2 linked regions of the Homo sapiens genome follow. The protein of the gene in region 2 interacts with the protein of the main gene of each other region in a pairwise test. Each region holds a gene or a part of one and is shown on either strand. Other genes may lie near its edges. The genes, in order: SPACA9 and SEPHS1.

Region 1 (3,818 bases), on a different chromosome or scaffold from region 2:
TGGGACCCTCTACCACACCATCCTGTTTGGGCAACTTCTGTAAGTGGGTTTCCTCTTCATCAGCACGGAGCCTGATGCTTAGAAGTGGAAATGTTAGAAGTTAAAGCAAGAGGGCCGGGCGCTGTGGCTCACGCCTGTAATCCCAGCACTTTGGGAGGCCGATCACGAGGGTAGATCATGAGGTCAGGAGATTGAGACCATCCTGGCTAACATGGTGAAACGCTGTCTCTACTAAAAATACAAAAAATTAGCCAGGCGAGGTGGTGGGCGCCTGTAGTCCCAGCTACTTGGGAGGCTGAGGCAGGAGAATGGCGTGAACCTGGGAGGCGGAGGTTGCAGTGAGCCGAGGTTGCGCCACCGCACTCCAGCCTGGGCGACAGAGCGAGACTCCGTCTCAAAAAAAAAAGAAGTTAAAGCAAGAAGAGAGAGAGGAAGTCTCAGTAATATATTGGCTGATTCCCTTGGGGTTAGTAAGTGGCAGGGTCCATGGGTACCAGTGAAAAAAGGACCAACCAGTAAAATCCAAATTAAACAGCAAAGCTCTCCGCCGACGGAGCTCCTGGCTCTGAGTTACAATTTCCCACCAGGAGGCCTCCAGGGTGGTTTTGAACATCCCCTGGGTTTGAGGCTGGCTTTTGTGAGCTGTCTACACTTGTGTTTAGTGGCCCTGGGCTGGGTCCCTATGGCCTGGGCAGGACGAGCGGCTCCCCTGGTGCTCTCCTGGTGCGCCTGGGGCTCACTCACGTGCTGCAGCACCTTGCGCGGCAACTTCTCGGAGTGGGCGATCCATTCTTTCATTAAGTCTAGGATGAGGGGGATGAGGCTGACCACGCCGCCGTAGTGGTTCCGGGCCTCGTCACAGCTGAGGTGGTTCACCACATCATGAGGGTATCTGCAGGACGGCAGGGGGCCAGGTGAACCCATGCTCCCGGGACTTGCCATGCCGTGGCAAGCAGCTGCCACACCTCAGGCACAGCAGAGTCACCTGGGGAGGCTTTAGAACTGGACACACAGCACGCTGAGGCGCTCTGTCCCCAGAGATTCTGGCAGACCAGGCCTGGGGTGCCACAAGCCCCAGGTAATTCTGGTGTGAAAGACAGGAGATGCAAACCACTGCCCCATGGTCCGTAGAAACCTGGGTTAGGGGTGAGGAACTGGCTGGCTCATCCCTCTGGCTCTTCTCACCCTGGTATCTACAGAGCTTCCCCAGGCTCTGGCCCACTGTGCTGCAGGCTCCCGGGCTGTCAGGATGAGGAGCCCTCAGTGCCAGTGCTGCTGCCCCTGGGAGGCGGCTCTGGTGTCCACTTCTTTGCATGTCAGTGAGGATCTCTGTGGGCTTCTGGGGGCAACTGCTCTGGGCTCTACACCCCCTTCTCCACCTGCCTGGTGCTAACACCCGTGAGACACCTGGTGTCCTGCCATGTCTACGATGGTTGTAAAGAAAAGGTTTTGTTGAATCCGAGTCATTCCAATAAATGAGTGGAGACTGGGATTTCCTGCCCGGGGTGGTCTAATAGGAGCACCATGATCCAGGCAACAGGAAAGAAGCAGGACAGAGGCCTCCCCACAGGCACACACGGGGCCTCAAGAGCAGCATCAGAGGGACTTACTTTGCTCTGAGGCTGCTTAAGTCGTTGCTTTGGCTAACGAGGGTTTTGCATTTCTCCAGGAGGTTGTTGGTGACTGGGGTGCCAGAGTGCACGGCCTCAAAGTGCTGGCAGAGCTTATTCAGCTCTGAACAGATGTCCAGGAACATGAGCAGAACCCGCCGGTCTGTGGAGCTGTTGCAGTAGTGTTCCATGTAGCTCTGCACCTGCAAGGGCCGCCGCCACATGAGCTGGGGACATGCCAACCCGGGTCCTGGCTGGCTTATGGTGCAAATGTCCAGAAGCACCCACCCTACTCCCTCCCACCCTACATGACTCATGGGGGAGACGCAAGTAACGCTTAAGCATTTTAAGGTACAGACCACTCTATATAGTGGTATCTCTCTCTCTATAGATGGATGGATGGATGGATGGATGGATGGATGGATGGATGGATAGATATGATATGAAATTAATGGATCGGTTGGGCACAGTGGCTCACACGTGTAATCCCCGCACTTTGGGAGGCTGAGGTGGGCGGGGATCACTTGAGGTCAGGAGTTCGAGACCAGCCTGGTCAACATGGTGAAACCCCATCTCTACTAGGAAAAAAAAAATTAGCCAGGCGTGGTGGCACGTGCCTGTAATCCCAGCTACTCGGGAGGCTGAGGCAGGAAAACCACTTGAACCCGGGAGGAGGAGGCTGCAGTGAGCCGAGATCATGCCACTGCACTCCAGCCTGGGTAACAGAGCAAGATGCCATCTCAAAAACAAAAAATTAATTAAATTAAATGGACGGATGGATGGGTAGATAGATAGATGGATATAAAATCAAGTGTTCCAGGCACCATGCAAAATGCTTTACGGGCCTGCTCTCGCCTGTCTTCATCTAAACCCTACACACTGAGCAGGTACCTTTTTAAATTCCCATTTTACAGATCAGTACCATGACATGAACACTGGAGGTTTGCAGAGGTGAAATAACCCGCCCAGGGCACCAGTGGCTTAGTTGGGTGTCCCCAGCTCAGTGGCTCCGTGCCCTACCCCTCACCTGTCCCCTGCCACCTGAACCAACCACCGCCTAAAGCAAAAGGGGGCTGCCCCCTGACTTAATGCCACAGTGCCTGTCATCCCACTTCTAGAGGGTTCATTGTGAGAAATTCCAGCGTGGGCCACCCATACTGAGAGGGAAACAGCAGGGACTGGAATCCTTTGGGCTTCAGCCGTACTGTGTTCACAAGGTGGAGAAGGAGGGGCAGGCCAGTAAGTGGAGCTTATGGGGTTACCCAGTGACTGCATCTGAGGTTGGGCCAGAGCCGGAGGTCTGATCTCGAGCTAGGGAGGAATTGGCTGTGGTCCAGGCCAGATGAACAGACCCATTTCGTAGTCAGATGGTTCTACTCTCCACAATCTGATGACAGATGCAGGTATCACCTCCTCCAGCACCCACAAAGGTCTACATCTAAATCAGGGTTTTCTTGCTGTAACCGTTTGTCTTTTTGTTGCTAGGGGATGTTTCCCCAAACAATCTGAAGTGGTTCCTTCCCAAGGACTGCCATGCACAAGCAGCTTCGTAAGGGGGAGAGGCTCTTCACACTCATACCCACAAAGGCACCTGTAGGGGTCGAGGAGGAGGAACCTGCCCCATGGTGTAACTACAACAGAGCATTGCGGGGGTGGGGGGCGGTGTGCAGGGAACCTTTGGACACTTCTGGTTCAGGGAGGGCAGGGGAGGGGTGAGGCAACTCAGAACACAAGGCCACTGTTTACCAAGAGCCTTCGGCTGAACCTAAGGCAAGAAGGCCACTCCCTTATGCATGGATGTAGATTCTGGGAAGGGACACTTGTTGACTTTTGAAGCTTCTGGAGGATGGACTAAAAAGGATGTAGGCAGTTTCTTTTCTTTTTTCCCCCGAAGTCCAGGTTTACAGAAGAGGAAGTTTATTTTCCAATAGCTCAGGGGCTGCATGCGTGGGCAAATATGGCTAAATTGGCTAAATGTCACAAGTCGGTGAATCTGGGTGAGGGTTATATGGGTGCTCCTTTTCTGTACATTTAACTTTTTTTTTTTTTTTTTTTTTTTGAGACAGGGTCTTGCTGTGTCACCCAGGCTGGAGTGCAGTGGTGCGATCTCGGCTCACTGCAGCTTCTGCCTCCAGGGTTCATGTGATTCTCATGCCTCAGCCTCCCGAGTCACTGGGACTACAGGCGCGTACCACCACAACTGGCTAA
Region 2 (3,818 bases):
CACTGAATTTTGTGTTTATTTTCTTGCATTTTAGAATATTTTTATTGCACAGCCCTTGTGTTCTTAAGCAGCAAATTAGTTTTGCATTTTTTTTACTTGTTTTGTTCACCATTGTTCCTGAGAGTCTCCTTGTTATATGTAGCTGTAGTAGATTCCTTTTGGCTGTGTTGATTTTTCCACTGGCTTCTCTGCTCTCCTGTTTCACACTGGGGCGACTGCTATGGACTTCCTTGGCCCAGCCCTCTGAGGCACGTGTAAGAGATCAGTACTGGCTCAGCTTTTATAGATAGTGCCAAACTGTCTTCCAAAGTGTTCACCACAGTTTACAATGGCACACTATGTTTAGAAAGCGTTTTTTAATATGTCTTCTCTTCCCATTTATTTTATACATTTTTTCTACTATAAAAGAATTACATGCTTATTATAGAAAAGTTTTTAGAAAATGGAAAATAGTACAGAAAAAAGTTGTCCATAGTCCCTCCACCCAAAACAGCTCCGGCTAGCATTTTTATGTATTCTTCCAGGACTTTTTTTCATGTTTGGCTGGTGATTTACTATTGTTGTTTTAAAGTAGTGGTTAGTATAAGTTTTCACTATGTAATGGTTAGTATATGTATTTGGAGTGCCTGCTTTTGTTGTTTTGACATGACTAATGTTTCCCATATTATGTATCCTAGTAAACTTTTTTTTTTTTTTTTTTTTTTTTTTTGAGACAGAATCTAACTCTGTCGCCCAGGCTGGAGTCCATTGGTGTGATCTCGGCTCACTGCAACCGCTACCTACCAGGTTCAAGCAGTTCTGTTGCCTCAGCCTTCCCAGTAGCTGGGACTACAGGCACGCATCATCACCATGCCCGGCGGATTTTTGTATTTTTGGTAGAGACAGGGTTTCACTATGTTGGCCAGGCTGGTCTCGAACTCCTGACCTCAGGTGATCTACCCTCCTTGGCCTCCCAAGGTGCTAGGATTATAGGCGTGAGCCATAGTACACATAATTTTTAATGACTAGATAATGTTCTACCAGAGAAATGTACCACAATTATCTTTTACCTATTGTTTTACAATTCATTTGGAAATAAAAATTTTCTGTAATTTGTTGTTACTTGTAAGAAAGTTATAGCCAGGCACAGTGGCTCACACCTATAATCCAGCACTTTGGGAGGTTGAGGCAGGAGGATCACTTGAGTCCAGCAGTTGGAGACCAGCCTAGGCAACATAGTGAGACCCCATCTCGTCTCTTTAGCTGCGCCTGGTGCATTCCTGTAGTCTAAGCTACTCGAGAGGCTGAGGTGGGAGGATTACTTGAGCCCAGGATGTTGAGACTGCAGTGAGTGGTGATCATACCCCTACGCTTCAGCCTGGGTGACAGGGTGAGATCATGTCTCAAAAAAAAAAAAAAAGTTATAGATCAGAGGAACAGAATAGAGAATCCAGAGGTAGGTCCATATTATAGTCAACTGATTTTTTTTTTTTTTTTGAGATGGAGTTTTGCTCTTTCGCCCAGGCTGAAGTGCAGTGGCAGGATCTTGGCTCACCGCAACCTCCGCCTTCCGACTTCAAGTGATTCTTCTGCCACAGCCTCCCAAGTAGCTGGGATTATAGGCGCCCGCCACCACGCCTGGCTAATTTTTGTATTTTTAGTAGAGATGGGTTTTCACCATGTTGGCCAGGCTAGTCTTGAACCCCTGACCTTGTGATCCGCCTGTCTCGGCCTCCCAAAGTACTGGGATTACAGGCGTGAGCCACTGCACCTGGCCTAGTCAACTGATTTTTGACAAAGGAGTAAAGGCAATTCATTGGAGAAAAGAGTCTTTTCACCAAATGGTGCTGGAACAAGTGGACATTCACATGAAGAAAATTATTCTGGATGCAGATCTTATACCTTTCGTGAAGATTAACTCAAAATGAATGTTTAGTGTGTTTTCACACTGCTATAAATAGCCAAGACTGGATAATTTATTTATTCATTTATTATTATTATTATTATTTTTTTTTTTTTTTTTTGAGACTGAGTCTCTTTTTTTTTTTTTTTTTTTTTTTTTTTTTTTTTTTTTTGAGACGGAGTCTCGCTGTCGCCCAGGCTGGAGTGCAGTGGGGTGATCTCGGCTCACTGCAACCTGTGCCTCTCAGGTTCAAGCGATTCTCCTGCCTCAGCCTCTGGAGTAGCTGGGATTACAGGGCGCACGCCACCACACCCCACTAATTTTGGTATTTTTAGTAGAGACGGGGTTTCACCATGTTGGTCAGGCTGGTCTTGAACTCCTGACCTTGGCCTCCCAAAGTGCTGGAATTGCAGGCGTGAGCCACCATGCCCAGCTGACTGGGTAATTTATAAAGGAAAGAGGTTTAATTTACTCACAGTTTCACATGGCTGGGGAGACCTCAGGAAACTTACAGTCGTGGCAGATGGTGAAGGGGAAACAGGCACCTAGGTTCTTCATGAGGCAGCAGGACAGAGAAGAGCAGGGGAAACTGCCACTTACAAAACCATCAGATCTCATGAGAATTCATTCACCCTGACGAGAACAGCACGAGGGAAACCGCCCTCATGATTCAGTCACCTCCCACCAGGTCCCTCTCTTGACATGTGGGGATTACAATTCGAGATGAGATTTAGGTGGGGACACAGAGCCAGACCATATTGATGATTCGTAGACCTAAATAAAACACAACAATATAAAACTGGAAGAAGGTAACATCAGAGAAAATTGAGGTGGCTTTGGGTTTGGTGATGACTTTATAACACCAAAAGCACTATCTATTAAAAAATTGCTAAGTTTGGCTTTATTAATATAAAAAACTTCTGCTCGGTGAAAAACACTGTTAAGGAAATGAAAAGACAAGCCACAGACTGGGAGAAAAATTTTGCCAAACACATACCTGTTCAAGGTCAGGTATCCAAAATATACAAAGGACTCTTAAAACTCAATAATAAAAAACAACTCAATTTAAACATGGCCCAAAGACCTTGACAGACACCATGAAAGAAGATAACGCAGATGGCAAATAAGCATAAAAGGAAACCTTCAGTGTGGTACGTCAATAGGGAACTGTAGATTAAAGCAGTGATTGAGATGCCACCACATACCTGTTAGAATGGCTAAAATCCAAAACACTGAGAATAGCCTGGGCAACATGGTGAAACCCCATCTCTACCAAAAAAATACAAAAAATTAGCTGGGCATGGTGGCTTGCGCCTTAGTCCCAGCTACTTGGGAAGCTGAGGTTGGGAGGATCCCTTGAGCCCAGGAGGTCGAGGCTGCAGTAAGCTGTGATCGCACCACCTCACTCCAGCCTGGGTGACAAAGCGAGACCCTGTCTCAAAAAAAACCCAAAAACACTGATAATACCAACTGCTGGCAAGGATGTAGAGAAACAGGAAGGAACTCTCATTTATTACTGGTAGGACTGAAAACTGGCACAGCCACTTTAAAAGTCAGTTTGGCAGTTTCTTATGAAACTAAATATGTTATTATATGATGCAGCGATTGTGCTCCTTGATATTCACTCAAAAAAGTTGAAAACTTACATTCACACAAAAGCCTGCAGACAAATGTTCATAGCAGCATTATTCATAATTGCCAGAACTTGGAAGCAGCCATTCATTTCTTCAGTAGGTGAGTGGATGAATGGATAAACAAAATGTAGTGTATCTGTATGATGGAATATAATTGAGCAGTAAAAAGAAATGAGCTATCAAGCCATGAAAAGATGTGGAGGAATCTTAAGTGCATATTACTAAGTGAAAGAAGCCAGTCTGAAAAAGCTCCATACAGAAGGATTCCAACTGCATGACATTCTGCAAAACTGTAGAGATGC

Evidence for each region.
Region 1: the proteins of SEPHS1 (region 2) and SPACA9 interact in a two-hybrid assay, tested with the Homo sapiens proteins (one large-scale study listed by BioGRID and IntAct).

Annotation. Positions count from the first base shown.
Region 1 is NC_000009.12:132,885,364-132,889,181, reverse strand, and holds part of SPACA9 (sperm acrosome-associated protein 9), read right to left. Parts: intron 1,814-3,818; coding exon 1,611-1,813; intron 893-1,610; coding exon 571-892; 3' UTR 1-570. UniProt on the Homo sapiens protein: Microtubule inner protein (MIP) part of the dynein-decorated doublet microtubules (DMTs) of multiciliated respiratory cells and the distal singlet microtubules of monoflagellated spermatozoa.
Region 2 is NC_000010.11:13,324,132-13,327,949, reverse strand, and holds part of SEPHS1 (selenide, water dikinase 1), read left to right. Parts: intron 1-3,818. UniProt on the Homo sapiens protein: Synthesizes selenophosphate from selenide and ATP.